Linked DNA regions of Homo sapiens: region 2 is linked to region 1. A link means that fine-mapping ties the variant in region 1 to the expression of a gene that starts in the linked region. Tissue or cell type: whole blood. Region 1 holds a variant in brackets; the other region holds the start of a gene. All regions are shown on one strand. Distances are from middle to middle.

Region 1 (8,108 bases):
GGTCCCTAGTACAGAGCCTCACACATAGTAGGTATGCAAGAAATATTGGTTTCCCTCCCTTTATGAAAGATAAGATACTCAGGTATCAAATTATGTACTTGCTGCCGTTATTTTGAATATTATTGGGAGTCCATGCTTTGTTTTTTACATATAGTTTAATTTTCTGCACTTAAATTATGGACAGAGTAAAAAGTATACATGTTCAGGAAGATTAATATGCAAACCCACAAACAATCTCAGAAGTTGAATTTAACAGCTCTACATTATTTTGACTAGGAAAATGGAATTTTTACTCAGCTCATAATCATTTAGACTGAGTCCATTAGTCACTTCATTTTTCACTGAAAACTAGTTTGCTGTGATTGGTTGGACTCTGATTAGAAATGTTACGCACCCACATCTGGTCTGGCACCTTATTCTAAGTAATAAGGTGGTTTGGAAGCCACCTTATTCTAAGTAATGAACAAGTCCCAGAAAGGATATCATAAAGGAATTCTGTCTCTCGTTCGGTGCCATTGATTAAACCAGATCGAGGGAAACAGTGACAGAAAACAAACTCCTTTTGAAGCACTCTAGACACTGGCTGTCAAAGTCCCTGAATTTCTAGGCACAATGCAACTACAAATGATGACCCAGGCACATGGCCAGATGGGAAGAGTCCTCAGTGCAGAAACACAGTGTACACAAAAGTCACTTCACACCCTGTCCTCTAATGGATGTTGCGATCCACGTTGAGAGTCCTGAATAGGAGGGAAGGTGGACTCCAGAAGAGCCAATGTGTCCAATTCATGATCTGGCTTGCCCAAGGTCATGCAGATAGAAAATACTGTCAAGGTAAAGACTAAAACATGGGTGTCTCAGCTGTAAGTCAAATAAATGCTGTCTCTATTCCTCTGTCATACATCAGTACTCAGGACCCTCTGACTCCAGTATTATTTCCTCCATTCTTAAGGCCTTTCTTCTGGGAATCATTCTGGGTGACTGCTGGGATCCTAGATCAGGTAAGAATATGACTGAGTCACAATCCTTGCACCTCTTGCTATCAACCTGTCTTGATGACTTTGAAACGTGTCAATAAGAACAGTAATGACTCGGGAGTCTGATCAGTAAATGCTTGTGGATTTTCCTATTTATTTATTTATTTTTTGCTTTAAGTTCCGGGATACGTGTGCAGAACGTGCAGGTTTGTTACATGTGCCACGTATGGTTTGCTGCACCTATCAACCTGCTACCTAGACAAGGATGAAGCTTGTGGATTTTCTTGTGATCCAAATGACCTCCCTATAGAAAGTGATTTTTTTTTCCGACGATAATTTATAGTCCATCTCCTTTTCTCTTTTGGCTGTTCTTTTTTTGTACTGGTATCTGCCAGACAGTATGCTAGGTATTTGTCGTATATTATCTCATTTATCTCATATAATCCTTCTGAGAATTCATTACAGACTAACAACATCCCATCTTTTAATCATGAAAAATCTTGTCCTAGTTTAGTAAATCTTCTACACTAGGGTTGTTTTTTAAGGCTATTTGACATGTTTTACTAATCTGTATCATCTGTCTTTTTGTCTAAAATGCAATATAGACTAGTGGTTAAGGCTTTGGAACCAGACTATCATGGCTCTACCACTTATTAGTTGTATGACCTTGGGCAAGATGCTTACACTGCCTGTTCCTCTGTTTCTGCATAGTTAGAATGGGTTATGATAGCACCTTACTTCAGGAGGTTTTTGTGAGGATTAAATGAAATAATAATAATAGCTGTAATGTTTTTTTTGTTTGAGACGGAGTTTCACTCTTGTTGCCTAGGCTGGAGGGCAATGGCGCAATCTCCTCTCACGGCAACCTCCGCCTCCCGGGTTCAAATGATTCTCCTGCCTCAGCCTCCCGAGTAGCTGGGATTACAGGCATGCGCCACCACACCCAGCTAATTTTGTATTTTTAGTAGAGATGGGTATCTCCATGTTGGTCAGGCTGGTCTCAAACTCCCAACCTCAGGTGATCCACCCGCCTCAGCCTCCCAAAGTGCTGGGATTACAGGCGTGAGCCACCTCTCCCAGCCACAGCTGTAAAATGTTTAGAAGATTGTCTGGCAGAGAGTAGACATTCAGTAAACAAGACAGTTTAAACTTGCATTTTGGCCACTACTTTAAATATATATACAAAAATAAGTGTTACGAATTTTAAAAACTCGGATATGTTAAAAACTCCCTTTAAATGTATATATTAGCCTTTGGAAGACCTCTTGAGTTAATTTATTTTTTGAGAAGGAGTTTCGCTCTTGTCGCCTAGGCTGGAGTGCAATGGCACGACTTCGGCTCACTGTAAACCTCCACCTCCTGGGTTGAAGCAATTCTCCTGCCTCAGGTGCCCGCCACCACTTCCGGCTATTTTTTATTATGATTATTATTATTATTATTATTATTATTTTTAGTAGAGACAGGGTTTCACCGTGTTAGCCAGGCTGGTCTCAAACTCCTGACCTCAGGTGATCCTCCCTCCTCGGCCTTCCAAAGTGCTGGGATTACAGGCATGAGCCACCACGCCCGGCCTTGAGCTATCTTTTCACATTAGTAATCCTTTCAAAATGATGCACAAATGGAGCCAAAATCAAATGCTCTACCAGAGCACCATCTATCAGTTATCTACTGCTACCCAACAAATTTGGTACTCCCAAACTTTGCAGTTGGGTACAGCAAACATCTATTATTTCACTGTTTCTGTGGGTAAGAAATCCGGGAGCAGATTTGCTGTGTATTTCTGACTTCGGGTCTCCCATGAGGCTTCTATCAAGGTGTCAGCCAGGCTGCAGTCATCTCCAGGCCCAACTGGGGGAGAGTCTGCTCCTGAGTTCACTCCTGTGGACCTCTCCACATGGCTGCCTCACAACATGGCAGCTGGCTTCTCCTAAAATAAGCATCCAAGAGGGAAAGAGCAAAAGCACTCAAGATGAAAGCTAGTCTTTTTATAACCATCTTAGAAGTGACAGCCCAGCACTCAGCTCTTTTCTATCCCTTAGCGTTGAGTTACTAAATCCAGCTCATGCTCAAGGGGAGGGGATTACACAGGATGAACACCAGGACAAAGGGATTATTGGGGGCCATCCTACTGGCTGCCTACAACAGATGGATGCATTGAATGGTCGTTGGAGCCAAAGATGAGGCCTATCTGAAAGGCATGGGTTACTTCAGAGAAACTTAGGTGAATCTAAAATGTAGTCCTTCATAAAAAACCATTTCCTGTTGATTCCTTTAATCAGTATTTACAGAACCCACTCTATACCAGCCTCTGCAGGGAATAAAAGGATGCATAAGAGAAGGAGCTGTCCCCAGGGGAGCTCATTTTCTTTGCCCCTTTCCTCATTTAGGAAATGCCTTTCCTGAGGCTCAAATTTTTGGGAGAGAGAAAGGGGGAGAGAGGAAGTGTGGGAGAAGTGTCCAATATGTGAGATGCAGGCTCCATCTCACAGGATCACAGGGAAAAGTGGAAACGGCAATCAGGCATGCCCTGGAAGTAGCTGTTGAAAATGTAAAACTCTAAAATCCCAGAGTATGTGGCCAATCATTCATTCCTTCATTCTTTCATTCATTCCTTCTACAAATGTGTATTGAGCTTCTTCTACGAACTCTATAATTCTAGCCTTTGAGGATACAACAATGAAGCTGACACAATTCCTACCCATGAAAAGCTTATCTGCTTGCAGATGGTGATGAGCAAGACACAGGTACATAATGTTAGGCACTGGTAAGTGTTATTGAGGGAGAAAAAAAAGAAGAAGAAGCAAGGAAAATGTTATTTGAATATGGTGATCAAAGAAGGCTTTATGGGGAAATGATTTTTTTTAGCAGAGACCTAATTTGAGAATAGAAAAAAATATATGAATATCTGAGTGCTTAGTGTTTGGAGAGCCACAAGGGCCCAGTGTGGTTGGAGAGGGTGAAAAGGAAGAGAGCTTTCTGGAACAGATCTGGTAGATCTTATAGACAGGGAAAAGAGGGTGACAGGAGCCACTGGAAGCGTTTAAGCAGGGATGTGAGGTGATCTCATTTACATTTCAGAAAGCTCACACTGGATGCTGTGGACTGAGATAGAGCTAGACCCGTGCAATCAACACACTGCCATTCTTTGATAATAGCTCCTGTATTTGTTTGCCAGGGACGCCATAATAAAGTACCACAAACCCAGTGGCTTAAATAGCAGAAATTTATTGTCTCACAGTTCTTAAGGTCAGAAATCCAAGATCAAGGTGCCTGCCAGGCCATGCCCTCTCTGAAGGCACTAAAGAAGGATCTGTTCCAAGGCTCTCTCCTGGCCTCTGTAGTCCTTGGCTGCAGCAGCATAACTGTCATCTTCACATGGCATTCTCCCTGTGTGTGTTTCTGTGTCTAAGATTCTCCTTTCTATAAGGACACCAGTTATATTTAATTAGGGGCCCACCCTACACCAGTATGACCTAGTCTTGACTAATTACATCTGCAACCACCCCATTTCCCAATAAGGTCACATTTTGAGGTACCAGAGTTTAGCACTTCAACATATGCATTTGAAGGGGACACAATTAAATCCATAACAGCTCTCTTTCTTATATCCTCATGTTATTAGAGTGCATGCTGAACGATACAAATACTTCAGCAGAGATTACTAGGGAACGGGTGCAGCATGGGAAGAGGAAAGTGAGCCAGAGAGA[C/T]GCTATACTTAGGGACAGATGTGTCCACAGCCTGTCTCTGTCCTGCTCAACCTCAGGGGGTGTAAACAAAGGCCAAACTTTTCTAGAAATTCAAGTATATGCTGATAGAAACAATACCACTTCCACCCATGTATTTGTCATCTTCTTAGGCCATCAGCCCCAAGTGAATTACCCTTTTTTTTTCTCACCCTATGTGTCAGAATCACACGTCTTCCCGCCAGGAGAGGAAAGCTCCTAGGTACTTCTGTGTAGGTAAGCTCATTAGGAAAAAGCAACCTATTTAAGTGAATTAATGAAACACTTCTGGATTCTGTGCAAATTAGGCCTGCGTAATATGAAGAAGGGAGAAAAAAATGTGCTGTGGTTTTATAGAGAGGTGGGAAATGCCCTCAGCATTTATTATACTTAATGATGAGATATTGTTGCTAGGTGGTTTGAAGGATAAAGTTTACATTAATAATATGTGATGCAATGAATCTACATTAGTGTGAAAAATTATTTTATTTACCTTTATGCAGCCTATCTGGTCCACTCATTACGTAGTTTATTTTGCAATGTCCTTAAAATACTGGACATAATCCCATTTATAAATTCCTGCCTCAAAGATGACATTGAGTGGATATTTAGGAGGGGCATCCAGGAAAGGGGGAGTGGACAAACCCTAAATTAATAATCCTGGAATGATACATTGAATGCTGCACTATCAGTTTGAAGCTGTTGGGTGGAAAGATGCAAATGAAAATCTGTTGTGTCCTCTTGGGACTTCTCAGCACAGCCCAAAATACAATTAAAATTGTGCAAGAGGCCTAAGTTGAACTTTTGTAATCATATGGCAAGTTATTTTTACAACAATTAGCAGTTTCAAAGTTCTTAATACGTTATAAGTACATATAGTTTTTCCAAAGTAATTTTGCAATACAACTGCTGGGGAAGTGGAAAGAGCACAGGAATGAAAATAAGGCAAACCAGATTCTAGTTCTTGATTCTTCCACTAATGAGTCAAGAGGCTCTGGGTGGAACCCCCAACCTCTCTAAGGCTCGGTTTTCTCATCTGTAGAATGAAGACATCAAGCCCACTTCCAGTTCTAACGTCCTATTATTCTGCATGAAGACATTCAATAAATATTTGGCCATGATACATCTTCATGGAATCAAATTTGTAAATGGGACAGAGAACTGAGGCTCAAACAAAAGTAGGTGGACAACTTTGAAGGGCATAAATCTTGCATCATTCTCTTCTTAATATCTCCACTTCTTTCACCTTAGTCCCAGTCAATCTCATGTCACCTGGATGATTGCAAGAGCCCCTAACTGGCATCCCTGCTTCCCTTCCCACCCCCCTCTAATCTTTTGATTATATAATTTCATTTCATTTTTTAGAACTCTCCAACACCTCCCATTTATTTAATGAATTTGTGGAGTACTTAACCCATGGCACAGGTGCTGCAAATACATGGTTAACAAAACAGACAATTCTCTGCTTTTATAGAGCCTACTTTATATTGGAAAGAACAGGGAGATAGACAGTAAATGAATATACATTACATAATATAAGGAAGTGATAAATACAATGAAAAAATCAAAGCAAAGGAAGGAGAGTATATGAGCAAAGTGCTGCTTTAGATATGCTAGTCAAGGAAAGCCTCTCTTGGCGTAAGATGAGTTAGAGAGCTAATCTTCAACCAGATCATCTTGGTCCAGGATGACCTTGTAGGTCATCTTTCCATTACCTTGTAGGTAATGGAAAGGACTTAAGATTTTATGTTTTGAAAAACCAGTGGCGAGTCTGAAGCAGTGGTATGGTTTGGATGTGGTTTGTTGCAGCCATGACTCATGCTGAAGTTTAATTGCCAGTGTGGCTGCATTAGAAGGTGGAACCTAGTGGGAGATGTTTTCATCATGGGAGTGGATCCCTCATGGATCCCTCATGAACAGAATAATGCCCTTCCTTGGTGGTGAGTGAGTTCTTGCTCTCTCGAAAATGGATTAGTTACCATGAGAGCAGGTTATTAAAAAGAGTCTGGCTTCCTTGATTTCATTCTCTTGCTTTCTTTCTCACCATGTGATCTCTGCCTAATCTTGGGCTTTCCACCCACCAGAATCATGAGCCAAATAAATATCTTTTCTTTATCTATTACCCAGGTTCGGGTATTTTGTTCTAGCAACACAAAATTGACTAAAACAAGCAGAAAAGAGAAATGATCAGATACGCCTTATTAAAGAAACACTGTGGATTCTTGGTGGAAGTTTTACTACAGAGAGACAGGAGTGGAAGCAGAGAGACCATGAAAGTACTATTAGGTAACACAGGCGAAAAATGTTGGTGGCTCACATTAGCATGATATCAAGGGATGTGTAAGAAATATTGGGATTTCAGATGTATTTTGAAGTTACTGCTGGCCTAGCTTATGGCTTGAATGTAAAGTGACAATGGGAGGAAAAATCATTATGTGAGGTGTCAACATTTTTGGCTTAAGCAACTCTGTGCACGGTGTTATACATACACGGTTAAGGATGAGCAGCTGATTTGGGAAGGAAGGTAAGAAATCAGTTATTCAGTTCTAGACACATTAAGCTTAAGGTGCTCATTAGATATTAAACCGATATCAGGTAAGCAGTTGGGTCTGAGTCTGGAGTTTGGGGAAAAGTTGGAGCATGAGAAAAACATCTGGAAATGAGTAGTATATTTGAAGCCATGAGACTAAATGATATCATCTCAGCAAATGAGTATAGGAGAGGCAGCAAGCTAATACCTGAGCCTTGGGGCTCTCCAGTGTTTAGAGTTTGGGTAGAAAAGAATACTCCAGCAATGGGGCTAAATCATAGGAGACTATCTACAAACATTCCCCACCACACCTACTAGTCTACTTGCACCAATATCCTTATCTCCTCTTGCTGTGTGAACTGGGCCTGTGCTCTTCTCCAAAGCCCACCAGTTCACCTACCCACAGAATCTTATTTCTTTTCCTGTGCTCAAATACATCGCTTCAGCAATTATCCCCTCTCAATTATGCAAATTCAAACTTCATTTATCTATCAGACCCTTCCATCAGGATACAGATATCCTTCTTAAAAAATAAATACACAAAAAGGGAAAGCTCCTTTCCTCTTGTATTTACCTTCAGCTACTGTTCATTTTCTGATCTCCTAGAAAGCAACACTCCTCAAAACAGCTGACCAAAGTTGCTACTGTTAATTCCTCTTCTTCTATTCTCTTTTGAACCCACTCTGATCTGAATTTTGACCTTAACACTTCACAAAACCTTCACCAAAAACTTCCACATTGCCAAATCCAGAAGTCAACTCTCTGCAACATTTAAATCGCTGATCACCCTCTTCCTTCTTGAGATCATTGTTTCACTTAGTTCTCAAAACATCATTTATTCTTGTTCCTTTTTCTGTCTTACTAGCTGCTTCTTCCTGG
Region 2 (8,108 bases), 400 kb before region 1:
CAACATAGAGAAACCCTGTCTCTACTAAAAGTACAAAAATTAGCCAGGTATGATGGTGGGCGCCTGTAATCCCAGCTATTCGGGAGGCCGAGGCAGGAGAATCGCTTGAACCCGGGAGGCGGAGGTTGCAGTGAGCCAAGATCGCACCATTGCACTCCAGCCTAGGTGACAAGAGTAAGACTCTGGCTCAAAAAAAAAAAAAAAAAAAAAAAAAGAAAAAAGCAGATCTTTTTTCATGTGACTCTTATGCCTGTTACAAGTAATGCTGGCAAATCCTTCCTGATCTTTTCACCACCAGAAAGACAGGATAGAAAGGCAGAGAGGGATGGAGGGAGAGCAAGAGGGTTAACATAGCTTGTTCATTTATTTACTCACCAAACTAATATTTATTGTTTGTCATGTGACAGGCACCAAGGTTGGTTCTGGGAATTTGAAGATGAATGAGTTACCACCCTTGCCTTCAAGGTGTTTCAGTCTAGCAGGGAGAACGATGTTTAAACCAGTAATTAAGCTTGATACAGCAATTATTTTAATGCTGAGCCACAGCTCTGAACAGAAGGGGCGCAGATGTGGAGACACAAGCTCATCCTTTTATTGAGTTCCCTAATAAAGAGCAAGATGCTTAACTCTGTTGATCTCTAGCTTCTTCATTAAAATGGGTGGGAGAGCATCTTCTCACTTGCAGACAGTGCATGTAAAGTGCCCAGAAGAGTGCTTGACACATAGTGGGCATTCAGCAAATGGTAGAGTGTGGATGTACTACAGGGGCTATGAAGGACTCAAGGGCAGTAGGACCATAGGAGGGGTCCTGAAGTCACACGTCAGATATGCAAGAAAGAACTTCTTGCACACCGCAAGAACACTAGGTACCAGGATTAGCAAGGAGTTGCCACTGATGAGTTGGTCCCTATTTCCCAACTTGCCTTCACTAGGTGGAACATTTCCTTTAAGGTTGCAAAGGGAGGTCAGTGCGATAGCTCACACCTGTAATCCCTGCACTTTCAGAGACCAAGGTGGGCGGATCACTTGAGTTCAGGAGTTCGAGACCAGCCTGGCCAACATGGTGAAACCCCCATCTCTACTAAAAATACAAAAATTAGCCGGGTGTGATGGTGCATGCCTGTAGTCCCAGCTACTCGGGAGGCTGAGGCAGGAGAATCGCTTGAACCCAGCAGGTGGAGGTTGCAGTGAGCGGAGATCGTGCCACTGCACTCCAGCCTGGGTGACAGGGCCCTGTTCCCTGCACTGGACCCCACTCCCTCTCCCTTGTCCTCCCCAGCCTCTGCCTCCTGCTCTCACTTACTGCTCTGATGACCAGCCAGGGCAGGCCTGGAGGCCGAGGTCAGTGGTTTGTTGGGACAAGGGCTGGTTCCCAAAAAGCCCCACAAAAATTAACCAGGTGTGGTGGTTTGTGCCTGTAGTCCCAGCTACTCAGGAGGCTGAGGCCGGAGAATAGCTTGAACCCGGGAGGCGGATGTTGAAGTGAGTCGAGATCTGCTGCACTCCAGCCTGGCTGACAGAGTGAGACTCTGTCTCAAAAAAAAAAAAAAAAAAATTGTAAAGGGAAAAGACTGTAATTTTTTCCTTTAGTAAGGATAACTCAGGTGAGAAGCCCATTGCATTTTTATTGCACCAATTTCTGACACTTAAATGTCTTTCACGAGTCACCTATTGGCACTTAGCTCCTTGTTTACGTGAAGAATCCCGTGTCTCCACTAAACTCCTTCCCTTCTAGGCCTTCCATATATTTTCCTGTTGCCTTTCTATCAACTCTGTGGTTTACTATATTTGAGAAGCATTATGTTTTGAAGTCATATATTATATACAGAGAAGTGAAATAGAATATTTGGTCGTTGTTGCCACTTGTTAATGAAAAGTGGCTACTATTGGGTAATATTTATTGAGCTCTAATTATCAGGCACCACACATTCTATGCATTGTATCAGTGCTTCTTGGCTTTTGATGGAAATACATGGGATATGGAGATCTTAAAATTCAGGTTCTGGTTCATTCAGTATGAGAGTAGAGGCCAAACGTCTACAGTGCTGACAAGTTCAAGGGTGATGCTGCTGTCCACAGGCTGCATTTTGAATAGCAAGACATTGTACCATTTGATCCTGACAACAACCCTATTAGTTAGAAATTACTTCTTATGGCCAGGCACGGCGGCTAACGCCTGTAATCCTAGCATTTTGGGAGGCCGAGGCGGGCGGATCACGAGGTCAGAAGATCTAGACCATTCTGGCTAACACGGTGAAACCCTGTCTGTACTAAAAATACAAAAAAAATTAGCCGGGCGTGGCGGCCGGCGCCTGTAGTCCTAGCTACTTGGGAGGCTGAGGTAGGAGAATGGCGTGAACCCGGGAAGTGGAGCTTGCAGTGAGCTGAGATCGCGCCACTGCACTCCAGCCTGAGCGACAGAGCGAGACTCCGTCCACCCCCCACAAAAAAAAAAAAAAATTTCTTATTTCGTATCTATGGAAACTGAACTGTAGAGAATTTATCCAAGGTCATGTTGCTAGAAAGCAGTACAGCTCGGGCTCTAAATCCAGATTTGCGTCCTGGGATAGTGTATATAATGTGGATTTTGGAAATATTCTCCAACATCCAAAGGTGATCTGATGCTACCTGAAAAAAATTCATAGTTTTAGTTTAAATTTTGACCCGTTTAATGAAATTTCTTTTTAATTTCTCTTTATGAAAGACTGTGTTAAATGGTGATTCAAATGTGTTGGATTTTGCTTCTAAAGGTATGTAGAGATTAGTATGATTTATTTGCCAAAATTATGGCCTAGAAAATGTCGTGCTATTGATGGAATCCGCATTGAACACAAGAGGAAATTGCTAGGGAAGGATGCGTGTGAGGAAAGGAAATCCTCAGGCTGATTTATTGTTCAGCGCTGAGTGTAAACAGTGTGCTATCCTTGTCACAGCCAAACGAAAAAGGACGCAATCACTATCCTGAACAGATCATTCTTTTAAAAATAATATTTTGGCCTGCTTATAAAGCATGGTTCGTAATAAAAAATTTGGGCTACAGAAATATAATACAATTAAATTATCCAAACTCCCATCTTTTTGTTTGTTTGTTTGTTTGTTTTTTGAGACAGAGTCTGGCTCTGTCGTCCAGGCTGGAGTGCAGTGGCTGGATCTCAGCTCACCGCAACCTCCGCCTCATGGGTTCAAGCGATTCTCCTACCTCAGCCTCCCGAGCAGCTGGGACTACAGGTGCGTGCCACCACGCCCGGCCAATTTTTTGTATTTTTAGTAGAGACGGGTTTTCACCGTGTTAGCCAGGATGGTCTCGATCTCCTGACCTCGTGATCCGCCCGCCTCGGCCTCCCAAAGTGCTGGGATTACAGGCGTGAGCCACCGCGCCCGGCCTATTTTCTAATTTTAAGTGAATGCATCTCAAAAGGGTGACGAAGGACCACATTCCTATCGAACAGCAATAATTCACTGTGGCAATATCTTGCCACAAATAATTTAAACATTAATTGTGGTTTTGAGGGGCAGTGTGCAGTGGGAGTAAAAGGGGTAGGGTTTAGAGTCTCCAAAAGATTTACTTAAGAAACACGAATGCACTGCTTGTGCACTGCGCAAAAGTTCTGGGGTCAAGTTCCAACTTTCACTAAGGATCCCAGAACAGCCCGGCAGGAGCTGCCCAGGGCTAACGCGCTTTGCTCTCAAACCCGGCCGCCAGTCGCCGACGCATGCGCAGTCTAGCACCGTGGCACAGGCCTTTCTCAAGCAGGTTTTTGTGGGGTCAGCAAAAGGGCCAGAACAGCAACGGCAAACAGTTCCGAGCCTGACAGTGCAGGGGCAAACCAGCTCCAAGTGAAAATCACCTCGCGAGGAAATAGGCTCAGGGATCGGGGCGGTTTCCGCAGGCGTCTCCACACACGCACTCTCACTCACTTTGAGGGTGCCAAAACACCACTAGGGGCAACTAGGAGGAATAGGCTGAGGAATCAGCTATAGAGAATGGAGGGGATAGAGCTGCAAGGGGCGAGGGGGCGACGATCTCTAAAACTTTCAGCGCCGTGCTCTACTGATGCTCTAGGCACTTTTTTCATTGCTCTGGGGAGTCTGGGTGCCCCAATTAATCCGTCGCTCCTTTGAGCATTTGTTGTTTAGGGGGTCCTGGGGGACCCCATCGTATTACAGTATTCAGCCACACTCCCCGCAAAGCCGGGAAGCCGCCCCGAGAGAAGACCCCAGGACGCCGGGGGCTGCGTGAGCCCCGCAAGGCTGCAGGCGGGGGCGCGGGATCCCCTTTCTGGCCGCCGCCCCCCTCCGCCGGCCCCTCCCCCGCGCCCCGCCCTCGGCCACAGACCCCAGCCCCGGCCGCCGGCGCGCTCCCACCCGCGCGTCTGGGGACTTGCGGACCGCAGCGAGACCGGCCGGCGTGCTGGGCATGCTCAGTGGCGGGCCGGGCGCTGGAGTCGGAAGCCTGTGCGCGGCAGCCGCCGCCGAGCCGGCCGGGGCGCACGGAGAGCGCGCGGGACTCGCTGCAGCGGCGGCCGGGTCGCGGCGCACCCGGGCCGGGACCGGAGCCGAGCCTAGCGCGGCGCCCGCGACCCGTCAGCCGCGGCTCCTGCTCCCTCGATCCCGCGCGGGGAAAGGGCCGGCGGCTGTTGGCGTCGGCGGGGCGCGGAGGAACCGCGGCGGCGGCGGCGGCGGCCGCATCCTTGCCGCCCGCCCCGGCCCAGCCGCGTCCCGGAGCCGTCGGGCATGGAGCCGTGGAAGCAGTGCGCGCAGTGGCTCATCCATTGCAAGGTGCTGCCCACCAACCACCGGGTGACCTGGGACTCGGCTCAGGTGTTCGACCTTGCGCAGACCCTCCGCGATGGAGTCCTGCTCTGCCAGCTGCTTAACAACCTCCGGGCGCACTCCATCAACCTGAAGGAGATCAACCTGAGGCCGCAGATGTCCCAGGTGAGGAGGCCGGCACGGGCGCCCCGCCTCCAGCCGGCAGCTCCCATTAATCATGCGGCTAATTTCTTTGTGTAAATGCAAACGTCTAGGTGCGCTGAGCTTGCCCTGCTTCCCAGCCTTCTGCTTTGGGACCACTTCGGCACCACTTTGGCGTTTCCTACCTTGGCTTGAAATGGTTTAGCTCCTCAAGCTGAATGCGAAAGCTTTGCGTCCGGAGATGGTGTGAGGATTTCGTAAAGGCTTTCTGTGAGGCGGGAAAGAAATAAGTTGTCTTAGGGTGCCCTTCACCTACTCTGCGTGTGTGTGGCGCGACAAAGGGAATTTGATCAAGCTCTTCTATAATAACGAAGGGGAGGGACGAAACGAGGTGATGGGGTAATTTGCCTTTAGTCTCTTCTTTTGCTTTGCGTCTTGTACTCATGTTTTCCTAAAAGAGGAACCATGACATACATGAGGACTCGAGGAAGTGAAGGGCGTTTGGTCCCGTTATCTGTCCAGGAGTGACATTGGTCAAAGGGAAGAACAGGGAGCAGAACCCGGAGGCCGCCCCCAGGGCCCCTGAGCTGGTGGCCAGCCGGCAAGCTCCCGTTTACAGCTCTTCCTAAGCCATGTGAGAAGGAGCGAGTCCAGCCTCTCTCAGCAGCGACAGGAAATGAGAAGTTTCACTAGAGATTCCGCTTTCCTTCCTGCAGTGCCCTGCTCAGGTGCTGTGGTGCCGGTCGGCTCCTGGGGCTGGAGCTGCCTCTTTGAGGGTTAAGCCAGACACCTCTGGAAGGTTGGGTGCACCCTAGAGTCAGCTCAAAAGTCACAGTTCAGTGGAAGAGTAGTTTATTTGTCCTGTCGGAAAATTTTTGTACAGAAGGATGTTAAACTCGGTTCAGAGCCTCTTTCTCTTTCAGAATGTTAAAACAAAACAAAAAACCAAACTGCTTTCAACTTAAAAGGGAGAGGACAGAGCCCTCTCCCTGACACATTTCAGCACTAATCCTCTATGACGCAGAGCCTCAGCTACTTAGCAACCAGAGCAGCGCCTTTTAAGAAGGAACGGACTTTATATGATTTAATAAGTATGTATTTAAAGTTAGAGCACACACAGTCATCTGTGATTCTTGGTGTCAGTGTTTCATCAGGGTCCCCTGCACTTCAGATTCTGCATTCCTTGCCTGTTTGCCTTCAACCTGCTGGTGGGCAGTCCCTAAGAAAGAACAGGCATGGAAGTGGGGAGAGCCATACGTATTTAAAAGTGAGGTAAATTATTTTATACCCCCATAAACATGCATGGTGATTGCTACCTCTCGGTACCCCTTCAGAGTTGTCTCAACTCTGGAAATTCCTTTGAGGGGTTTGGCAGACTTTTCTATTATGGTGGGAGCTGCAGTTAGCTACTCTCACACATCCCCATTTTCCACTTTGCCTGTAGCCTCAGGAGGCAGCGTGGGTCAGGATGCCTTGGCCCACCAGTAGGGAGTACAGTACTGTGCACATTTCCTGGAACTTGTTTCCTGGAACTCTCAGCAGTTGCTCTCAATAATCACGTTTTCTGGACAGCTGAAGACCTTTTTAAACCTCGAAGCCTTTATTTGAATGCTAACAATGGATGAGAATCGTTTTGAATGTGTTTCACTCTTCTCCTCTTATGTTAGATGTAATTTAATCTTTCTGATGACCAAAGATTGTCATTATAAGCATCATTAATGAAAATTGAGCACATACAATGCTCTAAGAGTTCTGTTCCCTAGTGGGGGTAGCAAAATGAGCACACCAGGATACTTGCCCTAAAGGAATTATTACACTATGCTATCAGATGGTAAATCACTGGGTTATAATAAGGTAAGTAGGACAGCTAATGACCTTCTTTGTGCCGTTGCACTTTTGAGTTCTTAAGTCTGTTCAACCTTGAGGTTTCTGGTTCCAAATTAAGTACAGTTTCTCCTGTAATGTCCTATGAGAGGGTGCTTCCCTCAAATGTGAATCCTAGAAGGCTAGTACCTGAGCCTGGTGATGTCTGTTTTTGCTTTCCTCATGGTTCTTGGCCTCATTGCAGAGAGGCAAGGCTGCTGAACAAGTGGATGCTAGGCCGATGAGTTTGTATCATGCAGGTTGTCATTAAATCCTTTAATGAGACTTATGAAATGATTTTATGAAACAACTTGACGTATTTAACATGCTTATAGTGCCTAGCACATGTACTTAATAAATGTTTACTATTAGCAAAATTATGAAAAACATTTTTTCTGCTATTGTTATATTAAGAGTAATAGGTTCCAATAGAAATTTTAAAACAATTGTAGAGGCCTACCGGTTCCTTTGGGCTGATAACCCTAGACATTTTGCCGCTAACTACTCATCTCTTTCTTGGGAAAGGTTCTAGCTGTAGTGAATACACTATTAACCTGGTACAACCCTGTCATGTCCCAGCAGAATGTATTCCCCTGGAGTTAGAGATGTCATTACTAGTACTTGTGGCGTTTTGGTATGTCTGAGAGTCGTTCTGTCTACTTAGATTCTGTTGAAGATATTAATTTGAAATAGACTATTTTTTATAGCACATGATCTCCTAACCTGAGAAATAACTGGAAGCTGTCACTTCTGACTTTTGTGACATATTGAGACTGTAAAGAGCAGATGTTGACAAAAGAAATTTTAATTTATTGATGTTTTGTTTGTAGCCTGTTTAGCTTTCCTGAAAGAGGCTATAAAATGACCAGCCTTTTAAAATGAGTGTTTATTCCAGTGAGTGGGATGCCTTTCTATTCTCTGTTAGCCTTCTGCCTTGTTTGCATTTAAAAAAATAAATAACTGCAAATAATGACTGCTCAATTATAGGTTTGAATCTTGGAATCTTAATAAGTTAGTTGATTATCTTTCAAAATAAAAGCATGGATGGGATCCCAGTTTTCTTACTTATTGTTCTTTCTGGCTGTTGACATCAGTTTGTTTTTGATCTTGCCATCTTGGTAAGAGGATGATCTTCAGTTCAAAAATAAGTATATTTTTTCATGCTGATTTAGTGTTTGTTTTTATTTATGATAGGTTAAAGAGGTAAACATTAATCATATTTAGTTATACATTTAACATGTTCCTCTTATTATATAATACAGTTAAATAAAATGCAGTTGGCCAGTGAATATCTAAGAAATTTGGTGTCTGTATATGTTAGATTTTAGTGT

What was found. PIP is the estimated chance that this variant, and not a neighbour inherited with it, causes the effect.
Region 2: it holds the start of VAV3, and the variant in region 1 is fine-mapped to the expression of VAV3 in whole blood (INTERVAL, PIP 0.96).

The regions. Positions count from the first base shown.
Region 1 is chr1:107,558,480-107,566,587 of GRCh38, reverse strand. No RefSeq gene overlaps it. Among named protein-coding and RNA genes, the nearest start is that of MIR7852, 330 kb to the left of the region's middle. The variant C/T (reference allele first, on the strand shown) is at 4,685.
Region 2 is chr1:107,961,496-107,969,603 of GRCh38, reverse strand. It overlaps VAV3 (vav guanine nucleotide exchange factor 3), which reads left to right and starts at 4,424. Exons shown (of 27, transcript NM_006113.5): 1 at 4,424-4,938. The coding sequence starts at 4,735. It overlaps VAV3-AS1 (VAV3 antisense RNA 1), which reads right to left and starts at 5,161. Exons shown (of 3, transcript NR_046653.1): 1 at 5,100-5,161. RefSeq lists enhancers at 3,638-3,707, 3,643-3,937, 5,284-5,413.